2 linked regions of the Homo sapiens genome follow. The protein of the gene in region 2 purifies or fractionates together with the protein of the main gene of each other region. This does not show direct contact. Each region holds a gene or a part of one and is shown on either strand. Other genes may lie near its edges.

The links.
Region 1: the proteins of INSR (region 2) and INPPL1 purify together in Homo sapiens (affinity purification with western blotting, with the first as the bait; 2 studies listed by BioGRID). This does not show direct contact.

The regions. Positions count from the first base shown.
Region 1 is NC_000011.10:72,234,767-72,240,375, forward strand, and holds the end of INPPL1 (phosphatidylinositol 3,4,5-trisphosphate 5-phosphatase 2), read left to right. Parts: intron 1-349; coding exon 350-437; intron 438-529; coding exon 530-685; intron 686-908; coding exon 909-987; intron 988-1,079; coding exon 1,080-1,220; intron 1,221-2,357; coding exon 2,358-3,030; intron 3,031-3,275; coding exon 3,276-3,409; intron 3,410-3,496; coding exon 3,497-3,587; 3' UTR 3,588-4,381; downstream 4,382-5,609. Other genes in the region: PHOX2A (paired mesoderm homeobox protein 2A), read right to left, coding at 4,983-5,516. UniProt on the Homo sapiens protein: Phosphatidylinositol (PtdIns) phosphatase that specifically hydrolyzes the 5-phosphate of phosphatidylinositol-3,4,5-trisphosphate (PtdIns(3,4,5)P3) to produce PtdIns(3,4)P2, thereby negatively regulating the PI3K (phosphoinositide 3-kinase) pathways.
Region 2 is NC_000019.10:7,115,705-7,124,160, reverse strand, and holds part of INSR (insulin receptor isoform Long preproprotein), read left to right. Parts: intron 1-1,171; coding exon 1,172-1,282; intron 1,283-1,387; coding exon 1,388-1,547; intron 1,548-3,411; coding exon 3,412-3,541; intron 3,542-4,577; coding exon 4,578-4,712; intron 4,713-6,750; coding exon 6,751-7,105; 3' UTR 7,106-8,456. UniProt on the Homo sapiens protein: Receptor tyrosine kinase which mediates the pleiotropic actions of insulin.

The sequences.
Region 1 (5,609 bases), on a different chromosome or scaffold from region 2:
GGGCATGGGCATGAGTGAGGATAAAGGCGTTTGCTTTATTTTGGGAGTGTGGAACCTTGTTGCAGTTTGTTCATTCATTCAGGAGATGCTTCTTGAGCTTTTGCTAGATGTCAGGTCCTGTGTTAGCTATTGAGAAAATTAATTAGTTACAGTGATGCTAGGTGCTGTAAAAGGCCTGTATAGGGCTGTGTCTTCTGCATTAAGGATTTGGCTCTTCTCTGAAGAGTTGAGTGTGAGTGAGCACAGATGACCTGAGGGTGGGGATTGAGTGGTGTCAGGGGGCAGCGCGTAGGAGGGGCAGGAGGAAGTGGCGGGGCTTTGTTCCTCACTGGGCCTCCCTGCTTCCCAGCTCAAACCAATTCTGGCTGATATCGAGTACCTGCAGGACCAGCACCTCCTGCTCACAGTCAAGTCCATGGATGGCTATGAATCCTATGGTGAGGGGTGAGGGGTGCTGAGGGGAACAGGAAGCCAGACAGGGCCCTAGATTAGCTTGGTAATTTGCTGGTTTGTCCCATCTGCTCCTCAGGGGAGTGTGTGGTTGCACTCAAATCCATGATCGGCAGCACGGCCCAACAGTTCCTGACCTTCCTATCCCACCGTGGCGAGGAGACAGGCAATATCAGAGGCTCCATGAAGGTGCGGGTGCCCACGGAGCGCCTGGGCACCCGTGAGCGGCTCTACGGTGGGGACTCCACTGGGACATGAGATAGGGTGGTGTGAACAGATCAAGGAGGGCAGGGTGCGGGGGGCATGTTGGAATCTCTGGGATACCTGGAGGTTCTGCAGCCACAGCTGGGAATAGTCCTGCCCCAAGGCATAGCTGGGAAAGGGCTGGCAGGCCCACTGGGTGTCTGTGGGATCCAGGAGCCCAGGTCTCCTCTGAGTCTCCCTTCCTGCCCCCTCAGAGTGGATCAGCATTGATAAGGATGAGGCAGGAGCAAAGAGCAAAGCCCCCTCTGTGTCCCGAGGGAGCCAGGAGCCCAGGTGAGCTAGGGCTGTGTTGAATGTCATATGAAAGGGTACCTGGGGGCATCTGGTCAACCCCACTTCATCTCTCTCCTGTGCATCCCTGGCAGGTCAGGGAGCCGCAAGCCAGCCTTCACAGAGGCCTCCTGCCCGCTCTCCAGGTTATTTGAAGAACCAGAGAAACCGCCACCAACGGGGAGGCCCCCAGCCCCACCCCGAGCAGCTCCCCGGGAGGAGCCCTTGACCCCCAGGTGAGAGGAGGAACCTGTCACCGCCCCCCCTTCCCCCACCCACCTCTATCCATCACTATCCCCTGCAGGGTCTCAGGGTTGGCCTGGAGATCATCAGCTGCTTAGGTGCCCTGCCACTCTGTGGTTGGAGCTGCCATGGCCTTATGCCTGTGGCCAGCCAGGCCACCCTTAGCTGTGGCTCTGAGTCAAAGGGAGCAGTCAGCCTTTCCTCTCAATTCTGCCTTTAAAAATGGAATGCGAAATTGTTTCTAAGACAGCTCCCTCCATGTAAACAGACCTAGCTTGAGCCTTCTATTTGGAGGAGGCACATGGCTCGGCCTGGGATTTCCCAGGGTACCTTCTTTGGAACTCTGTCCTGCAAGAGGCCCCAGTTGAAATGGGTTTGTGGTCAAATGAGTTTGGGAAATGCTTTTTCTAGATTCTTTTCTTAGACATTCCCAGTGCATGTTAGTATTAGCAAAAGCTCTGAGCATGTGGACAGGAAGGAAACCTCTTTTCAGCTCTGTTTAATATAGTTTCCCAAACTTAATGGGCCAGGAAACTTATTTTCCATGTAGTAACTATTAACGTTCTGGGGAATTAGTGCTCTGTGTCACACTTTGGGAAAGTGAGGCTTGCTTTCTAATTATATCCGATTGTTGCTTAAACTTACATAAACTCCTAGGTACAGTTTGGTGCTTTTTCACTCATCTTCAGCTGTTGTCAGTCACCCCGGTTTTATCCCTAGGCTTGAATAAGACCCACCTGAATCTCTGAGAAAGATTCTGCAGCGGATTGACTGTGGGTGCCTCAAGAGGCTTTCCAAACCTGGCCTCTCATTGGAGGCTTCTTGCCCTGTCTTCTGGCACCTCTATTCTGACCCATTTAGCTTGGGTTTCACAGCTACAGATAAAGTCATGAAAGATCTAAGTATCTTAGCAAGTGAGGCAAGGGATTGTAGGGTTATCCATTCAAAGGGTTATCCTCCCTCTGACCTTTAGAGATGAAGAAACTAAGGGCAGGTGATGTGCTCAAGGTCATGAGAAAGTCTAGGACCAGGGGACTTTCTGACTCCCGTCTAGTTCTCCTTCCACTGCTTCCACTGCCTTAGACCTGGGTTCCTGGATCCTGGCTTAGTCGTTCTGCTTCCACACCCAGGTTGAAGCCAGAGGGAGCTCCTGAACCAGAAGGGGTGGCGGCCCCCCCACCCAAGAACAGCTTCAATAACCCTGCCTACTACGTCCTTGAAGGGGTCCCGCACCAGCTGCTGCCCCCGGAGCCACCCTCGCCTGCCAGGGCCCCTGTCCCATCTGCCACCAAGAACAAAGTGGCCATTACAGTGCCTGCTCCACAGCTTGGGCACCACCGGCACCCTCGTGTGGGAGAGGGGAGTTCTTCAGATGAGGAGTCTGGAGGCACACTGCCCCCTCCAGACTTTCCACCTCCACCACTGCCGGACTCAGCCATCTTCCTGCCCCCCAGCCTGGATCCTTTACCAGGGCCAGTGGTCCGGGGCCGTGGTGGGGCTGAGGCCCGTGGCCCACCACCTCCCAAGGCCCATCCAAGGCCTCCACTGCCCCCAGGCCCCTCACCAGCCAGCACTTTCCTGGGGGAAGTGGCCAGTGGGGATGACCGGTCCTGCTCGGTGCTGCAGATGGCCAAGACGCTGAGCGAGGTGGACTATGCCCCTGCTGGGCCTGCACGCTCAGCGCTCCTCCCAGGCCCCCTGGAGCTGCAGCCCCCCCGGGGACTGCCCTCGGACTATGGCCGGCCCCTCAGCTTCCCTCCACCCCGCATCCGGGAGAGCATCCAGGAAGACCTGGCAGAGGAGGTGTGTGGAGCAGGGTGGCTGTCTGTGTGTGCCTGAGTGTGCTTGCCCACAGACTGGTACCCTTTCACTCCACCATTCAGCACTCATGGTGTCCCTGCTACCCTGAACTGATCACTGGGAAGTTGGGAGACACATGTATCAGCCCAGCCCTTCCCTTCCTTTTCCCCAGAGCATGCAGCAGAATGTGACTGCAGGTGTTTCTATGGGGGGCACTCAGCTCCCCCTGACATGCCCTGTTTCCTTAGGCTCCGTGCCTGCAGGGCGGGCGGGCCAGCGGGCTGGGCGAGGCAGGCATGAGTGCCTGGCTGCGGGCCATCGGCTTGGAGCGCTATGAGGAGGGCCTGGTGCATAATGGCTGGGACGACCTGGAGTTTCTCAGGTGGGGGAGGGGCTGGCCCCGGGGGCGGAGCTGGGGCCCTCAGGATCCCCTTGCCCATCTCACTTCCCAGCCTGTTTTACTCCACAGTGACATCACCGAGGAGGACTTGGAGGAGGCTGGGGTGCAGGACCCGGCTCACAAGCGCCTCCTTCTGGACACCCTGCAGCTCAGCAAGTGATAGCGGAGGCACCACGAAGCTGTGAACTCAGAGCCCCTCCCTGCTACCAAGGCCCAGCTATGGCCCCAGGGTTGAAAAGTTATGAGGGTCAGGGCAGTATCTCTCTGCCTATTTATTGGGGTGCCTATTTATTGGGGATCTGCATTCCCCGCTGCCCAATCATTTGCAATGCCCTAATTAGGGCATCCTGCCCCTCGCCTTTTAGGCTCAGGACGGAAGGTCAGTTGCCATGGTTACCGAGGACCCTGGTTACTCTGGTGCTGTCCTGTTTTACTGGACCCCGCCTCCCAGCCCCAGGGGTGCCTGTGGGGGTCCATTTGGGTACGTCTGGGCCCCCACTTTCACCAGTTTCTGCGGCCTTCCACCGGGCCTGAACCACAGCGGAGGAGCTCCGCTAAGACCTCCCCACCCCCGCTGGGGGTGGGGGCGGGTGTCCGTCCGGAAATGAAGGAATAGCCCGAGGACCGGGCTGGGGTTTATTTAAACTGTTCTGTGTGGGTCTGGGGAGGGAGAGCACCTTAATATTATTGGGGTTGGTTGGGGTGGGGCAGGATCTCAGCCATAAAGTGCCAGTTTGCTTAGTTCTCACTGTCTCCTGGTCTGTGCTGCCCTGCTCTGGGGATGCACGGCGGCAGGGTGGGGGAGGGAGGTTCCTCGCAGGTCTCAGCCCGGGACAGGGTCTTGCAAGCAGCCTCCTGGGCAGTCGTAAGGGTTGCGGCGTGATGTCTTCAATAAATTAAGTTTTATTTGGATTGAGTAAAACTTCAATAAATTACAAGTTTTTCAAAGAAAAAGGACAACCAAAAAAATTAGGGAAAGAGAATCCCTCTGTCCCATTCCCCAGGCAGCCCCTCCACTCCTCTAACAGGTCCACCCTCTGTGCCAGACGGGCTAGGGAAGAGAGGAGACACGTGAGGGATGAATTGGCGGTGGTCATTAATTATCCCGGCGACCACCAGCCTCTGTACGGGTGGGCCCGAGGGGTGGGGCAGCGGGCTTTCCTGATCACCAGCGTAAGGGGTGACCCAGCCGCTGCAGAGCCAGGGAAGGGGGCTGTGCCGATCCTCCTTGAGGACCTTCACTTTGAGGGCACTGTTAGGGACAGGCCTCATGTGATACCGCATCCAAAGAAGGCCAAGCTAGAAGGAGCTCCGGGGTTCTCCTGGAGGAGGTCCCGGTATAAAGAACTCCGCTCTGCTGGTAGAGGGTGGGTGAGGACGAGAGTGGCCCTGACTTGGTCTCCAAAGTTGGGGAGGACACACCGAGGGGTGAGACAGTAGGGAGTGGAGACGGATGGGGACTTCCAGGCGGGTGGCCAGGATGGGAGGGGCTGTCAGGTCCTGGAGGGGCAGGGACGTCTCTGGGGGCAGGCTCGGAGCCTCCAGAGGCCGGCAGCTAGAAGAGATTGGTCTTCAGGGCGGGGCCGGGCTTCCGGTGAAAGGAGGACAGAACCCCGGAGAAGGGCCCGGGGCCGGACTCCGCCGGCTGCCAAGCCTTAAGTAGTTCGGCCGCTCCCGCGCCAGGCCCGCCGCCCCCACCGCCCGCCACACCGGCCCACAGTGCGCCCTTGAGCGGCTGTGGCCCCGGCCCAGGTCCCGGCCCGGAGCCCAGTGCGACGGGCAGCGGGCTGGGGCTCAGGCGCGGGCTGGCCAGGCCGGGCGCAGGCGGCGGCGGCAGCGAGGCGGTGCTATCGGGCGTGGGGCTGCACGTGGACTCCTTGGAATCGTCGTCCTCGGAGGAGCAGCGCGCCTCGCCCTTTTTGGCGCCCGCCGCGCCCGCCGCGCCCTTGGCGCTGGCCGCGCGCTCCTGTTTGCGGAACTTGGCCCGGCGGTTCTGGAACCAGACCTGCGGGCACAGGGGCCAGTCAGCCTGGACGAGGGTCGGAGAACGCACGGGGTCAGCCCGCGGCCGCAAGGCTCGAGTGAGATCCTGGTTCGGAAAGAACCGGGCCCGGGTTCTTACTAGTTGGAGGGGCCTTCGGCCCTCCGCACGCAGCCCGCTGCACTCCGCGCTCCACTGGCC
Region 2 (8,456 bases):
TGAACTCCTGACCTCGTGATCCACCCGCCTTGGCCTCCCAAAGTGCTGGGATTACAGGCGTGAGCCACCACGCCCAGTGCCTGGCTAATTTTTTTGTATTTTCAGTAGAGACGGGGTTTCACTGTGTTAGCCAGGATGGTCTCGATCTCCTGACCTCATGATCCGCCTGCCTTGGCCTCCCAAAGTGCTGGGATTACAGGCGTGAGCCACCACGCCCAGCCTATTTTTATATATTTTTAAGACAGAGTCTCTCTCTGTCGCCCAGAGTGGAGTGCAGTGGCACAATCTCGGCTCACTGCAACCTCTGCCTCCCAGGTTCAAGCAATTCTCCTGCCGCGGCCTCCTGAGTAGCTGGGATAACAGGAGCCCACCACCACACCCAGCTAATTTTTGTATTTTTAGTAGAGATGGGGTTTCGCCATGTTGGCCAGGCTGGTCTCGAACTCCTGAATTCAGGTGATCCACCGGCCTCAGCCTCCCAAAGTGCTGGGATTACAGGCATAAGCCACCACCCCCAGCTGACTCCAAACCCTTTATACATTAGGAGCAAATGCTATGGAAACATGAAGAAAGGGAGGAAAGGAGGGTTGGACAGGGGTGTATTTGAGCAAAGACTTAGAGGACATGAGGAGCTGGGCCCTGTGGATGTGGCAGGGAACAGAGAGCCAGGCAGAGGGAATGATTAAAATACAAAGGCCTGGCTGGGTGCAGTGGCTATAATCCCAGCACTTTGGGAGGCTGAGGCAGGCGGATCACCAGAGGTCAGGAGTTCAAGACCAGCCTGACCAACATGGAGAAATCCTGTCTCTACTAAAAATACAAAAATTAGCCGGGTGTGGAGGCGGGCACCTGTAACCCCAGCTACTCGGGAGACTGAGGCAGGAGAATTGCTTGAACCCGGGAGGCAAAGGTTGCAGTGAGCCGAGATCACGCCACTGCACTCTAGCCTGGGTAACAGCAAGATTCCGTCTCGAAAATTAAAAAAAAAAAAATACAAAGGCCTATCTGTCTGCTGTCCGGGCAGGTATGTCTGCTCTCCTAGACCAGGGCTGAGCACGCTGCATCCAGGCCACAGGGTGCTGTGTGTGACATAGACACCAGGGAGGGAGGAGAACCCTGGTGAGTCGAATCACGGACCCTCCTCCAAGAACCCTGGTTGCTTGCTCTGCAGGTGCGCCTCCTGGGAGTGGTGTCCAAGGGCCAGCCCACGCTGGTGGTGATGGAGCTGATGGCTCACGGAGACCTGAAGAGCTACCTCCGTTCTCTGCGGCCAGAGGCTGAGGTAAGCTGCTTCGGGGGACCCAGCGGGGTACTCGGTGGAGCACCCGCTCCTGGCCTCCTCGGATCCCAGTGCTGCTGAAACACCAACCCCGTGTTTCTGTTTTAGAATAATCCTGGCCGCCCTCCCCCTACCCTTCAAGAGATGATTCAGATGGCGGCAGAGATTGCTGACGGGATGGCCTACCTGAACGCCAAGAAGTTTGTGCATCGGGACCTGGCAGCGAGAAACTGCATGGTCGCCCATGATTTTACTGTCAAAATTGGAGGTTCGTCTGGCTTTCTGCTTTGAAAACATAACGACCCAGGCCAGGTTTGATTTCAGAAGGAAGTTGTCTATAATGAGCCGTTAAGTCTTTTCTGATAATATAAAGGGGCAAGATACTTCTTTTTTTTTTGTGGGGTTTTTTTTGTTTTGTTTTGTCTTTTTGTTTTTGAGACGGAGTCTTACTCTGTCTGTTGCCCAGGCTGGAGTGCAGTGGTGTGATCTCAGCTCACTGCAACCTCCACCTCCCAGGTTCAAGTGATTCACCTGCCTCAGCCTTCCAAGTAGCTGGGACTACAGGTGTGCGCCACCATGCCTGGCTAATTTTTGTATTTTTAGTGGAGATGGGGTTTCATCCATGTTGGCCAGGATAGTCTTGATCTCCTGACCTCGTGATCCTCCTGCCTCGGCCTCCCAAAGTGCTGGGATTACAGGCGTGAGCCACTGCACCGGCTTTTTTTTTTTTTCTTTTTTCTGACATGGAGTCTTGCTCTGTCGCCCAGGCTGGAGTGCAGTGACAGGATCTCGGCTCACTGAACCTCCACCTCTTGGGTTCAAGCGATTCTCCTGCCTCAGCCTCCTGAGTAGCTAGGATTACAGGCGTGCGCCACCACACCCAGCTACTTTTTGTATTTTTAGTAGAGACGGAGTTTCACTGTGTTGGCCAAGATGGTCTCAAACTCCTGACCTCATATGATCCACCTGTGTTGGCCTCCCAAAGCACTGGGATTACAGGCATGAGCCACTGTGCCTGGCTGGGCAAGATTTTGGATGGGGACCCCCCACCAGCTGTCATTTAATTGCATGTATTGATAAACTCACTTACCCATTCACTTCTTTAAAAGATATGTTTGTAGGACCGGGGGTCCCGCCTGTAATCTCAGTGCTTTGGAAGTCCAATGTGTAAAGACTGCTTGAGTCCAGGAGTTTGAGACCAGCCTGGGCAACATAGTGAGACTCCATCTCCTTGAAAAGATTTTTTAAAAAGTGGGGTGTGGTGGTGCACACCTGTGGTCCCAGCTACTCAGGAGGCTGGGGTGGGAGGATTGCTTGAGCCCAGGAGGTGGAGGCTGCAGTGAGCTGTGACAGCATCACTGCACTCCAGCCTGGGTGACAGTGAGACGCTATTTCAAAAAACAAATAAAAAAGGAATATAGAGGGGACCAGAGCAGCGTGAGATGTGAGGATGAGGAGAGAGGCAGAAACCAGACCCAGAAGGACCTTGCGTGTCACAGCAAGTCATCTCGACATTATCTTACATTAGCAAGGGGCAGCAGGAAGTGATATGATTCTATTTATGACTCAAAAAGACATCTCCTGGCCAGGTGCGGTGGCTCACCCCTGTAATCCCAGCACTTTGGGAGGCTGAGGTGGGTAGATTACCTGAGATCAGGAGTTCGAGACCAGCCTGGTCAACACGGTGAAACCCTGTCTCTACTCAAAATACAAAACATTAGCTAGACATGGTGGCAGACAGCTGTAATCCTAGCTACTCAGGAGGCTGAGGCAAGAGAATTGCTTGAATCAGGGAGGTAGAGGTTGCAGTGAGCCAAGATTGCACCACTGCACTCCAGCCTGGAGGACAGAGTGAGGCTCCATATCAAAGAAAAAAAAAAAGAAAAATGTAGCTTCTTTGTGATTTGGTACCTTCTTTTCCCTCCCTTTAAACAGTAGCCCATCTTCCCCCTTCACTTCCCCATGCGTACCCTCAGAATCCATTCTTACTGGATTTGGCCACCACCCAGGTGAGCGCAGACGTGGGCCAGGTGAACCCCTCTTAGGGCTCTGTGAGAGGTGGGGCAGTCAAGGTGGCAGATGCTAGGACCAAGGCTGAAGGTTAAGAGCGTGTGAACCTTTTGTGTTGTCAGACTTTGGAATGACCAGAGACATCTATGAAACGGATTACTACCGGAAAGGGGGCAAGGGTCTGCTCCCTGTACGGTGGATGGCACCGGAGTCCCTGAAGGATGGGGTCTTCACCACTTCTTCTGACATGTGGTGAGTTGTGTGTGGATGGGTGGATGGACGCTGGGCTTGAATTCCAGGTGCTAGTGAGAGCCAAGAGCGGGGGAAGGAAGCCTGCCATCCTCCTGGACGCCCCATCAAGGAAAGGAAGGCAGCGTCCTGTCTTAGGATCTTCCCACGGCTACTCTTATGTCCTGACTAATCCTGTAGGCATTGTGAACCCCGAAAATCTGAGACAGGTCTCAGTTAATTTAGGAAGTTTATTTTGCCAAGGTTGAGGACGTGTGCCCGTGGCACAGCCTCAGGTGGTCCTGAGGACAGGTGCCCAAGGTGGTCAGAGCACAGTTTGGTTTTATACATTTTAGGGAGACATGAGACATCAGTCAACATATATAAGATGAACATTGGTTCGGTCTGGAAAGACGAGACAACTCGAAGTGGGGAGGGAGCTTCCAGGTTGTAGGTAGATAAGAGACAAATGGTTGCATTCTTTTGAGTTTCTGATGCGCCTCTCCAAAGGAGCCAATCAGATATGCAGGTATCTCAGTGAGCAGAGTGGGGACTCTGAATAGAATGGGAAGCAGGTTTGTCCAAGCAGTTCCTAGCTGGACTTTTTCCTTGAGTTTAGTGATTTGGGAGCCCCAAATTGATTTTCCTTTCACAGCATTTATGAACTGCAGCATGAATTGTTTTATTAAGTGGCTAACCATGTTCTAGAAACCAAGAGATGTGTTTGTGTGTGTGTTTGTGTGTGTATGTGTGTGCATATGTGTGTTTGTGTGTGTTTGCATGTGTGTGCGTGTGTGTGTTTGGGTGTGTGTGTTTGTGTGTGTATATGTGTTTGTGTGTTTGCATATTTGTGTGTGCATGTGTGCGCATGCGTGTTTGTGTGTATTTGCATGTGTGTGCACGTGTATGTGCGTGTGTGTTTGCATGTGTGTGTTTGCATGTATGTGTTGGCATGTGTGTTTGCGTGTGTGTGTGCGTTTGCGTGTGTGTGTTTGCGCGCGCGCGTGTGTGTGTGTGTCTAAATGGCTTCTTTGTTACTACTATCAACTGTCATCGGCAGGTCCTTTGGCGTGGTCCTTTGGGAAATCACCAGCTTGGCAGAACAGCCTTACCAAGGCCTGTCTAATGAACAGGTGTTGAAATTTGTCATGGATGGAGGGTATCTGGATCAACCCGACAACTGTCCAGAGAGAGTGTAAGTGTAGAAAGGGTTTAAGGTGTGTGAGGTGTTCGTTGAAAGGGTATTGCCCTTTACACGTGTGCTTGGTTTTGCCTTTCCTATGTCTACACGCTCACCGTGTTTGCATGCTGTATGTTACAGGTGTGTTTGTGTTTGCATAGCTTGTCTTTACATGCATGCTTGCATTTGCATATTGCATTGTGGTACACACACTTGAGTTCCCATATGTGCTACATGTACGCTTACGTTTGCATATTATATATTTACATAGGTATTTATGTTTGCATATTATATGTTTCTGTGTGCATCAGCATATCATGGCACATGTACACCTCATTTACATATTATAAGCACACATGTTTACATATTATGTCTTTACCTGCCTGCTTGTGTTCACAAATCATATGATTTTCTTGCATATTGTATCTTTGGAAGGTTGCACAAAACACCTATAGCGGTAGTTATCTTGGGAGAAGGGAACTGGAGACCTGGGGTTGGGGGAGAGAGACCTGTTTGCCTGTTAATTTTTTTTTTTTTTTTTTTTTTTTTGAGACGGAATCTTGCTCTGTCACCCAGGCTGGAGTGCAGTGGTGCGAGCTCGGCTGACTTCAAGCTCCGCCTCCCGGGTTCACACCATTCTCTTGCCTCAGCCTCCCGAGTAGCTAGGACTACAGGCACCCACCACCGCGCCTGGCTAATTTTTTTTTTTTTTTGTATTTTTAGTAGAAATGGGGTTTCACCGTGGTCTCGATCTCCTGACCTCGTGATCCACCCACCTTGGCTTCCCAAAGTGCTGGGATTACAGCCGCCTGTTAATTCTTTATACACTTAAAATTTTGTCAGGTAGCTGGGCATGGGTGGCTCACGCCTGTAATCCCAAGCAATTTGGGAGACCGAGGTGAACGATCACCTAAGGTCAGGAGTTCAAGACCAGCCTGGCCAACATGGTGAAACCCCGCCTCTATTAAAAATATAAAAATTACCCAGGCGCGGTCGTGGGCGCCTGTAATCCCAGCTACTCAGGAGGCTGAGGCAGGAGAATTGCTTGAATCGGGGAGGCAGAGGTTGCAGTGAGCAGAGACTGCACCATTGCACTGCAGCATGGGTGACAGAGTGAGATTCTGTCTCAAAAACAAACACAGACACACAAAAATTTTGTCAGGCATACATATTATATATTCCCCCCTCCAAATATATATGCATATGTACATATATATATATTTAGATGAAGTCTCGCTGTGTCACCCAGGCTGGTAGAGCGCAGTGGCACAATCACAGCTCACTGCAACCTTGAACTCCTGGACTCAGCCTCCTGGCTCAACCTCCCAAAGTGCTGGGATTACTCTTGAGCCAGTTTTGAAATGAGGAATCCCTTTTCAAAACCATCTTTCAGGCTGGACAGGATGGCTCATGCCTGGAACCTCAGCACTTTGGGAGGTTGAGGCAGGAGGATGGCTTGAGCCCAGGAGTTCAAGGCTGCAATGAGCTATGATTGCGCCACTGCACTCCATCCTGGGTGACAAAGTGAGAAACCCTGTCTCAAAAAAAAAAAAAAGCGGCCAGGCATGGTGGCTAACACCTGTAATCCCAGCACCTTGGGAGGCCAAGGTGGGTGGATCATTTGAGCCTAGGAGTTTGAGGCCAGCCTGGGCAACATAGCAAAACCCTGTCTCTGCAAAAAATACAAAAATTAGCTAGGCATGGTGGTGCACACCTGTGGTCCCAGCTACTTGGGAGGCCAAGGTGAGAGGATTGCTCGAGCCTAGGAGGCAGAGGCTGCAGTGAGCTATGATCATGCCACTGCACTCCAGCCTGGGTGACAGAATGAGACGCTGTGTCCAAAATAAGAAGAAGAAAAGCAAAAAGAAAACACCATCTCTCAGCACCTCTAGCAATGCTATTTCTGCCTTGACAATTGTCCACACACACAGCCAGCATCTGATGTGAGCACATGTGGTCCGTGGGTGTCGGCTGCAGGGACAAGAGTGGGGGTTTGGGAGGATGCGTGGCAGGGCCCCCAGACTCACCCAGGACGTGTCCTTCTGCCCCGCAGCACTGACCTCATGCGCATGTGCTGGCAATTCAACCCCAAGATGAGGCCAACCTTCCTGGAGATTGTCAACCTGCTCAAGGACGACCTGCACCCCAGCTTTCCAGAGGTGTCGTTCTTCCACAGCGAGGAGAACAAGGCTCCCGAGAGTGAGGAGCTGGAGATGGAGTTTGAGGACATGGAGAATGTGCCCCTGGACCGTTCCTCGCACTGTCAGAGGGAGGAGGCGGGGGGCCGGGATGGAGGGTCCTCGCTGGGTTTCAAGCGGAGCTACGAGGAACACATCCCTTACACACACATGAACGGAGGCAAGAAAAACGGGCGGATTCTGACCTTGCCTCGGTCCAATCCTTCCTAACAGTGCCTACCGTGGCGGGGGCGGGCAGGGGTTCCCATTTTCGCTTTCCTCTGGTTTGAAAGCCTCTGGAAAACTCAGGATTCTCACGACTCTACCATGTCCAATGGAGTTCAGAGATCGTTCCTATACATTTCTGTTCATCTTAAGGTGGACTCGTTTGGTTACCAATTTAACTAGTCCTGCAGAGGATTTAACTGTGAACCTGGAGGGCAAGGGGTTTCCACAGTTGCTGCTCCTTTGGGGCAACGACGGTTTCAAACCAGGATTTTGTGTTTTTTCGTTCCCCCCACCCGCCCCCAGCAGATGGAAAGAAAGCACCTGTTTTTACAAATTCTTTTTTTTTTTTTTTTTTTTTGCTGGTGTCTGAGCTTCAGTATAAAAGACAAAACTTCCTGTTTGTGGAACAAAAGTTCGAAAGAAAAAACAAAACAAAAACACCCAGCCCTGTTCCAGGAGAATTTCAAGTTTTACAGGTTGAGCTTCAAGATGGTTTTTTTGGTTTTTTTTTTTTCTCTCATCCAGGCTGAAGGATTTTTTTTTTCTTTACAAAATGAGTTCCTCAAATTGACCAATAGCTGCTGCTTTCATATTTTGGATAAGGGTCTGTGGTCCCGGCGTGTGCTCACGTGTGTATGCACGTGTGTGTGTCCATTAGACACGGCTGATGTGTGTGCAAAGTATCCATGCGGAGTTGATGCTTTGGGAATTGGCTCATGAAGGTTCTTCTCAAGGGTGCGAGCTCATCCCCCTCTCTCCTTCCTTCTTATTGACTGGGAGACTGTGCTCTCGACAGATTCTTCTTGTGTCAGAAGTCTAGCCTCAGGTTTCTACCCTCCCTTCACATTGGTGGCCAAGGGAGGAGCATTTCATTTGGAGTGATTATGAATCTTTTCAAGACCAAACCAAGCTAGGACATTAAAAAAAAAAAAAGAAAAAGAAAGAAAAAACAAAATGGAAAAAGGAAAAAAAAAAAGAACTGAGATGACAGAGTTTTGAGAATATATTTGTACCATATTTAATTTTTAAAGTCTCTGGTATTAGCCTCATAAGTTATTGACTATTCCCCGGGGTTGGCGGGGAGTGGGGACATGAGTTGGTCTGCCTGTTGTGGGGCCGGGAAGGGGAGGGAGTCAGGCACAAGTGGCCTCTTTGTTTGGTCTTAAAGGCATCCATTTCTGGGAATGAAGCCATGTTCGCTGCTAACACTTTTGGATGTTGTGAGGCCACGTGGAGTGTGTGAGAGACTAGGTTTTATGGATGGTCTGGTTCAGGTACCAGGTCTGCTGGAAGGTTCCTGTTCGGATAAGCTGGTAGCTACCTAGCTCTGAGCCTGCCTTCAAGAACACCTGTG